2 linked regions of the Homo sapiens genome follow. The gene in region 1 interacts genetically with each later gene. Each region holds a gene or a part of one and is shown on either strand. Other genes may lie near its edges. The genes, in order: SZT2 and GBF1.

The links.
Region 2: changes in SZT2 (region 1) and GBF1 together harm fitness more than expected from each alone (negative genetic interaction), as found in Homo sapiens cells (one study listed by BioGRID).

What each region holds. Positions count from the first base shown.
Region 1 is NC_000001.11:43,392,723-43,396,539, reverse strand, and holds part of SZT2 (KICSTOR complex protein SZT2), read right to left. Parts: intron 1-3,817.
Region 2 is NC_000010.11:102,367,423-102,371,239, forward strand, and holds part of GBF1 (Golgi-specific brefeldin A-resistance guanine nucleotide exchange factor 1), read left to right. Parts: intron 1-55; coding exon 56-138; intron 139-795; coding exon 796-1,032; intron 1,033-1,316; coding exon 1,317-1,410; intron 1,411-1,788; coding exon 1,789-1,965; intron 1,966-2,288; coding exon 2,289-2,353; intron 2,354-2,438; coding exon 2,439-2,562; intron 2,563-2,751; coding exon 2,752-2,823; intron 2,824-2,961; coding exon 2,962-3,056; intron 3,057-3,284; coding exon 3,285-3,438; intron 3,439-3,817. UniProt on the Homo sapiens protein: Guanine-nucleotide exchange factor (GEF) for members of the Arf family of small GTPases involved in trafficking in the early secretory pathway; its GEF activity initiates the coating of nascent vesicles via the localized generation of activated ARFs through replacement of GDP with GTP.

The sequences.
Region 1 (3,817 bases):
ATTCACTTCAGTGTTGTTTCTTTGTTTTTTTTGCCCATACCTGTTTAGTTGGTAGAGTTGGGAATGTCCTCACATAGAGCCAGAATCTGTCTTTTTGATAATATCTTGACCTACTCTTAAAATCTGTTGTCTTGAAAATATCTAACCCACTTTTTGTTTTACCTTCTAAGGCCACACAGGGAGAATCTGACCCTCTGCCAAACGAGAGTCTATTAAACATGTGATGACAGCCCTGAGTCTTTACTTTTCTAAAACAAACATCTTTGGGTTCTTTAAGTGTGTCTCAAATGGCATGGTTTCAAGTTTCCTCACTATTTTATATCTTAGATTATGTGCCCATGAATGAATTCTGGCTGGTCTACTTTACAACTTAAAATGTGGGGACCAGAATGGAACATAATACTCAAATGAGGTCACAGATTCAGATTCTCCTAGGTTATACTTGCTCAGGAAACCTCCATGACTTTCTCACTTGTGCTGCTGTCCAAACACATCTCCCATTTTATCCTCATGCACCTGGCTTTTTTGGACACATACGATCATTCAATTAGTCCTGTCACTTGGATAAATTCAGCCTATTATTTTATGGTGAAGCTTAAGAGTGTTGTTTCTTCTTCTACTAAATCTCTCCAGTTTGATTTCCATGCTAACTTGTTCAGGGTGCCATCATGTCCTCATCGAACTCCAAAAAGAACAAAGGCAAGGTAAGCATGCATGCATTCACTCAACAAATTTATGAAAAGCCTGGTACATGCTAGGCACTGGGCTGGGTCCTAATGATACAATGAAAAGCAAACACATGCATTCCCTGCTCTCATAAAACATATTCTATAGTGAAGGACAAAAACATTGATCAAATAATCACTGTGACTATTGTATAATTACACACTGAGTAAGTGCTCCGAAGGATAAGAATGTGGTTCTACAAAAACAAGTAACAGCCACGTGCAGTGGCCCATGCCTGCAATTCCAGCACTTTGGAAGACCAAAGTGGGCGGATTACTTGAGCCTCAGGAGTTTGAGACTAGCCTGGGCAACATGGCAAAACCCTGTCTCTACAAAAAATTATGAAAATTAGCTGGGTGTAGTGTCATGTGGCTGTAGTCCCAGCTACTCAGGAGACTAAGGTGGGAGGGTCGCCTGAGCCCAGGGAGGTTGAGGCTTCAGTGAGCCATGATCATACCACTGCACTCCAGCCTGGATGACAGAGCAAGACCCTGCCCCACTCCCTGACCTCCCCCTCCTCCCAAAAAAGCAAGCAAGTAACAAAGTAACCTGTTCAGGCTAATACCTTAAGAGAAAGTGATGCTGAAGGTTGAGCAAGGTTTGTTAAGTGAGGAGAGAATGGGGGTAAACGAGACAGAGGGCACAGACTATTAGAAAGCTTTCTTCCAATTACCAGTTAGTAGGCCACTAAATTTTACTACTGTACAGCTTCCATTTTTTCCCACCTTTCCTTGAAGGTTATTTTGAATGATGGACTGACTCTCCAAAGGCACAATGAAGTCTAGCTCATCAATCAGTTCTTACAGAATCCACCTTCCTGAAATCAAGAACATTTGCTGAACATTTGCCTAGTCTTCTTGCAACATCCCCCTTTACATATGATCCTTCAAAGTCAACAACTATATTTTCTTTTTCTTTTCTTTTTTTTTTTTTTGAGATGGAGTTTCGCTCTCGTTGCCCAGGCTACAGTGCAATGGCACCATCTCGGCTCACCGCAACCTCCACCTCCTGGATTTAAAGCAATTCTCCTGCCTCAGCCTTCCGAGTAGCTGGGATTACAGGCATGCGCCACCACGCCCGGCTAATTTTGTATTTTTGGTAGAGACGAGGTTTCTCCATGCTGGTGAGGCTGGTCTCAAACTCCCGACATCAGGTGATCCACCCGCCTCAGCCTCCCAAAGTGTTGGGATTACAGGCATGAGCCACCGCGCCCAGCCCAACAACTATATTTTCAAAACATCATTTCTAAGTTCTCTTCACTTTCAAGATGTAATTTATCATAACTAGAAGACTTAATAATTTAAGCAGCTAGAATGGTGTTTTTCAAAGTGGGATCCAAGGACCAGCTGCATGAAAAATCACCTGAAGTGCTTATGAAAATACAGCGTTGAGTCCCAGGCACCACCCCAGACCAACTGAATTAAGAGTTGATGGGCTCCAGACTGGGTGCTGTGGCTCACACCTGTAGTCCCAGCTACTCAGGAGGCTGAGGCACAAGAATTGCTTGAACCTGAGAGGTGGAGGTTGCAGTGAGCCAAGATCACGCCACTGCACTCCAGCCTGGGCGACAGAGCAAGACTCCATCTCAAAAAAAAAAAAAAAAAAAAGAGTTGATGGGCTCCAGAATCTACATTCTAACAAGGTCTCCAAGTGATTCTTCCACATTAACATTTGAGAATCCCTGAATTAGTTCTCAGAGCATCCACACTCACATGGAGCTTCAAGTCCTCATATGAATCCTCCTTGAGTCTGAAGTTCATTACTCTCAGAGTAGTCTGGCAAGGAAGACAAAGTAGAGTTTCGGGGTCAGGGACCTGGATTCAAATCTGATTCTATCATTTGCTATATAGGTGACCTTGGACAAGTTACTTAATTTTTCCAAGCCTCGGTTTCTTTATTGATAGTATGTGGATAAGAATATCTTCATAGGGATGTCGTTGCAATTAAACAGGAGAGGAAGGCTATCATTCTTTGGAATATTTATTGAGGTCTACATACCATTTATACCAAGATGAATAAAACATTACCAGGCACTGTGCTGCATACCATGTATACCAGGAAGAATGAAGCATGGTCCATCTCATTAATTTGTTGCTTTGTCTTTTTGTGCCTGTCCCTTTGTGATTAAGGTCTGATTTGTTCAGCCTTTTCTAACCCTTGTGCTGTCTTTTGTTAACACATTCCCACAAAATAATGTGGATTATTTCCCCTCTTGAACTGGCTAAAATCTTCTTACCACTATACATCAAAGTCCTGAGCCTCTAGCATGGCCTCAAGCTGCATCTTCTCCAGCCTTATCTCTCACCAATCCCCACGCAGTTAAAAGCATGTATTCCAGTGTTAGAGCACTTAGGATCAAATGCTTGCTCTGCTGATTATTAACTATATAGTTTTGGCAGAGACTTACACTCTCTATGCCTCAGTTAGCTCATCTGTGAAACACAGATAATAAAAGTGCTTATTTTCAGATAATTTTTGAGTATCAGATGATACTCAGTAAGCATTCAGTAAGTGCTAGCTATTCTCATTGTCAAACTGCATCCACACAAGGAGTTGCTTCCTCTTAGTTCTCTGAAGGCTCCACTGGGCTCCTTCTCACCTGAAGATCTTCACTATTCCCTTTGCCTGCAATGCTCTCTGCCTCTTCTTTTAGAAAACTTCTACCTATTCTTCAGGCTTCAGCTTAAATGTCATTCTTCTGAGTCTTCCTATTCACAACCCCTTGCCTCCCCATTTCTTAACAAGGTAGGTTGAGAACCACTGTTAAACACCCTAATTCACTCCTTTACAGCACTTATTATCCTAATTCAATCCTTGTTTACTCCATAAAGATAGAGAGCATGTCTGTCTTACACGGCTCTGTATCCACCCTGATACTTAGCACAATTCTGACTCCTACCAGCACTCGTAAAATATTTCAAGTGTGTGATGAATGAATGATTTCCTAAATCTGACTATACCCAATCTTTCTCTCTTGGGATCCTAACAGCCTCTAAAAGTCAATAACTTTATTACACCCAGGGGCAGAACTCTTCAATCTCTTTACCTTCTGATAAAATTTTCAGAAATGCAAATCAGGGAGTTAAAAAAT
Region 2 (3,817 bases), on another chromosome or scaffold:
TAGGTGGGGCTTCAGTGTTGACACAAGGGGAAAAAACTTACTGGCCTGTCTCTAGGAGTTTCGCAAAAATCTGAAAGGTGTGAATGGAGGCAAGGACTTTGAGCAAGACATCCTGGAGGACATGTACCATGCCATCAAGTGAGTATACATAGAGAATAGTGCAGTATCTCTGTTAAGAAGAAGCACATTGCTTCCTTTCCCAGTTTTTAGAGTCATGTCAGACTGCAGTGACTCACATGCCCTGGATTTAGCCTCAGGACTTAGTTGGGCAGCCCCCTCTCTGCCAACTGTTTCTTCCTTAAAGAAGCCCAAATGATATTGGGACTCTAGTACTCTAAGCCAGGGTCCAAAGTGCTGCTCTTAAGTAGGATATCATGGCCCCATTTTCTGAACTTAAAACAGGTACATTTTCCTGTATAGATTACAAGATGCTGGCTGGTAGAGAACCCAAGATGGGCACTGGAGTGTGAGGCCCAGGTTACAGGTCAGAAATGGGCCACTTAGTTTTTTACTGTAAATCAGAAAAGGTAGAATTGTTCATTTTATCACACCTAGTAAGAATGTGTGATCTTACTATAGAACTAAAGGCCTCACTTACAGATAGGGCTTTGAGATTATGGGACACTTCCTTTCTTTCTGTCTGCTCCCACTGGTGGGTGGAAAGCAGACCACTGAGCTGCAGTTCTGATGACCTCTCATCAGTGGAGAGTGCTAGTATGGATGAACTCCTAGTCTTGGTTTGGAACTAGTCAGGTTCAAAGCAGTGCAACTGCTCCTTCCCTTACCTCCTGACAGGAATGAGGAAATTGTAATGCCTGAGGAGCAGACAGGCTTGGTTCGGGAGAACTATGTGTGGAATGTGCTGCTTCATCGAGGTGCCACCCCTGAGGGCATATTCCTGCGTGTGCCTACTGCCAGCTATGATCTTGACCTCTTCACCATGACCTGGGGCCCCACTATTGCTGCTCTCTCTTATGTCTTTGACAAAAGCCTTGAGGAGACAATCATCCAGAAAGCCATCTCAGGCTTCAGGTAGCCCAGCTTTGGCCTTGGTCTTCACCTCCCACTAGCTCTGTGAGCTAACATGGTTTTCTCCATGCCTCTCTGACTCCTACTGTTACTTCATTAGAATGGGGTTCCCCCTGAGTTTTTGGAGGGAGGCTGAAGCTTGGGTAGGCTCAGTCTTAAACAGAAACAAAATTAAAAGGTTTCTTCCTGGGACTGACTGGGGAAGAGCCCCATGCAAGCTCAGGGACTTGGAAGGGCTGCTTGGCCTTCCAGTGACTCTGTTTCTGGGATGGGGGGTAACATTACAGGAAGTGCGCCATGATCTCCGCCCACTATGGCCTCAGCGATGTGTTTGACAATCTCATCATCTCTCTATGCAAATTCACAGCTCTCAGCAGTGAGGTGAGCAGGTGCAGGAACTGTGTACTTGGAGCTCCAAAGGAGGACCTCTCTTTTAGCCATGGATCTACCCTTATCAACAGACCTGGTTGCCCTCAGCGTCTTCCCTCACTGCCCCCACTTGAATATACCAGAGCTTAGGCCATTTCTGTCTTGCACACTCTGGGATAAAACTAGTGTTACTTCATGTAATGGGGATGGGAAAGGAGATACAGGAGTGGGGAAGGCCTTAACTAGGTTAACCCACTCCCACCAGTATTATGGGGGATTGAAGCAGAGCCAACAAAAGGACCTGAGGGAACCATCATAGGCAGAGACCTAAGAGATTTTCCTTTCCAGACATTAGCTCGGCCTTAAGTCTGTTCTCTTCCTCTTTTCCAGTCTATTGAGAACCTGCCCAGTGTATTTGGAAGCAACCCTAAAGCCCATATTGCAGCCAAGACAGTATTCCATTTGGCCCATCGTCATGGTGACATCCTGCGGGAGGGCTGGAAGAATATCATGGAGGCCATGCTGCAGCTCTTCCGAGCCCAACTACTGCCCAAGGCTATGATAGAGGTAATTCTTAGTAGGAGACTAGTGAGCGATAACAAGGCAAGAGCTGCAACATTGTATGCTACCTGTACATAGAAGTAAGTGGTTGAGAGTAATGTTGGGCCTGATGCCTGCCACAGCTCACCAGGAATGCCTCAAATGTAAGACCACAGATCTTGGGGGATAGCTGTAAAAGAAGGCTGGTAGATGCCATTGCCAGTCACCAATTGGCACAATAGCATAGGGGCAGAAGACTAGAGGAGGAAATCCAGAGAACTTTGGTGGGTGGAGGCGGGCACAAATGCAAAGGACACATGGAAAGAAATTATTTTGACTTACTTTTCCAGGTAGAAGATTTCGTGGATCCCAATGGCAAGATCTCTCTACAGCGGGAAGAGACACCATCAAACCGGTAAGAGCAGACCAGAGGCTCAGGGGCTTGGGGAGGGAGAGTCAGAACTTTGGGGCTCACCAGGCCATGTGCCCTTTTTCTACAGAGGAGAGTCAACAGTGCTGAGCTTTGTGAGCTGGCTAACACTGAGTGGTCCTGAGCAGTCTAGTGTTCGGGGCCCATCCACTGAAAACCAAGAGGCCAAGAGAGTGGCCTTAGAGTGTATAAAGGTAACTGCCCATCCACCCCTGGTGAGAAAGCCTAAACACCTTCCTATTAGATGCTACTTGGTGAACTGAAGAATAAATCATCCAGGATTTGTAACCAGGGCTGACTCTGCCCTCTCCCCCTGGCTCTTGGGGACATTCTGTTCTCTTCAGCCTTTGTCAAAGACCCCCTCTCTCTTTTGCCCTCTCTAGCAATGTGACCCAGAAAAAATGATCACAGAAAGCAAGTTCCTCCAGCTGGAGTCACTACAGGAGCTCATGAAGGTAAAGGATGAAGAAAGGAAACATGGAACAACTGGCTGAATCTGGGAGGGGTGACAGGGACAGTATTATTTCTGTCAGGGCAGGGCCAGTGGTTGGCTTCTTTTCCATGCCTACTTTCCTGCTGCTGTTCCCCTTCAGGCTCTGGTCTCAGTGACACCAGATGAAGAGACATATGATGAGGAAGATGCTGCTTTCTGCCTAGAGATGCTGCTAAGGATTGTGTTGGAGAACAGGTAAGATGAGCGTAGTCTTTAGGCAGACCCCATGCTGGGCTTGTGCCAAAGGGATGGAAGCCATCTTGCTGAGTGGGCTCTGGGGAACTGTAGGCAGCAGGGGAGAAGCTTACTCATCATACCTGTCTACTTAGGGTATAATACCAATGAGTCCTGAAAGGCCTAGGGGACCTGTTGCCCAGTGGCCCCTCTGGCTGAGACTATCTTCATTCCTTTATGTCTACACAGGGATCGTGTGGGCTGTGTGTGGCAGACTGTTCGAGACCATCTATACCACCTCTGTGTTCAGGCACAAGATTTCTGCTTCCTTGTGGAGCGGGCAGTGGTGGGGTTGCTACGCCTGGCCATTCGGCTTCTCCGGAGAGAAGAGATCAGTGCTCAGGTAAGCAGAATGCATCTTGGAGAGTGGGCAGGTATGCAAGGGATTAAGGCCACAGTTGTCAATTATGAATATGGCCTGAGACAGAGAGTACATTTAGTGCCCCATAGCATGAGTCCAGTGACCAACCACAGGGCTGGTGCAGTCTAGCGGGTGGTACTGGGAGTGAGCCTGGAATGGCCTCAGGCATGGAGCTTGTGTTTGGCACCTCAGCCTCCTATGAATCTGCTTTGTAGGACTGGCCTGCTACTGCCTTATAATAGTCTCAGCCCTATACCTGGTTTCCTGTCATGCTTATGACCCTCTTGAGATCTCTTTGCTTAACTACAAAAAACAACAAGCATAGAACTAATAAGTGGATTCAACAAGGTCACAGGATGTG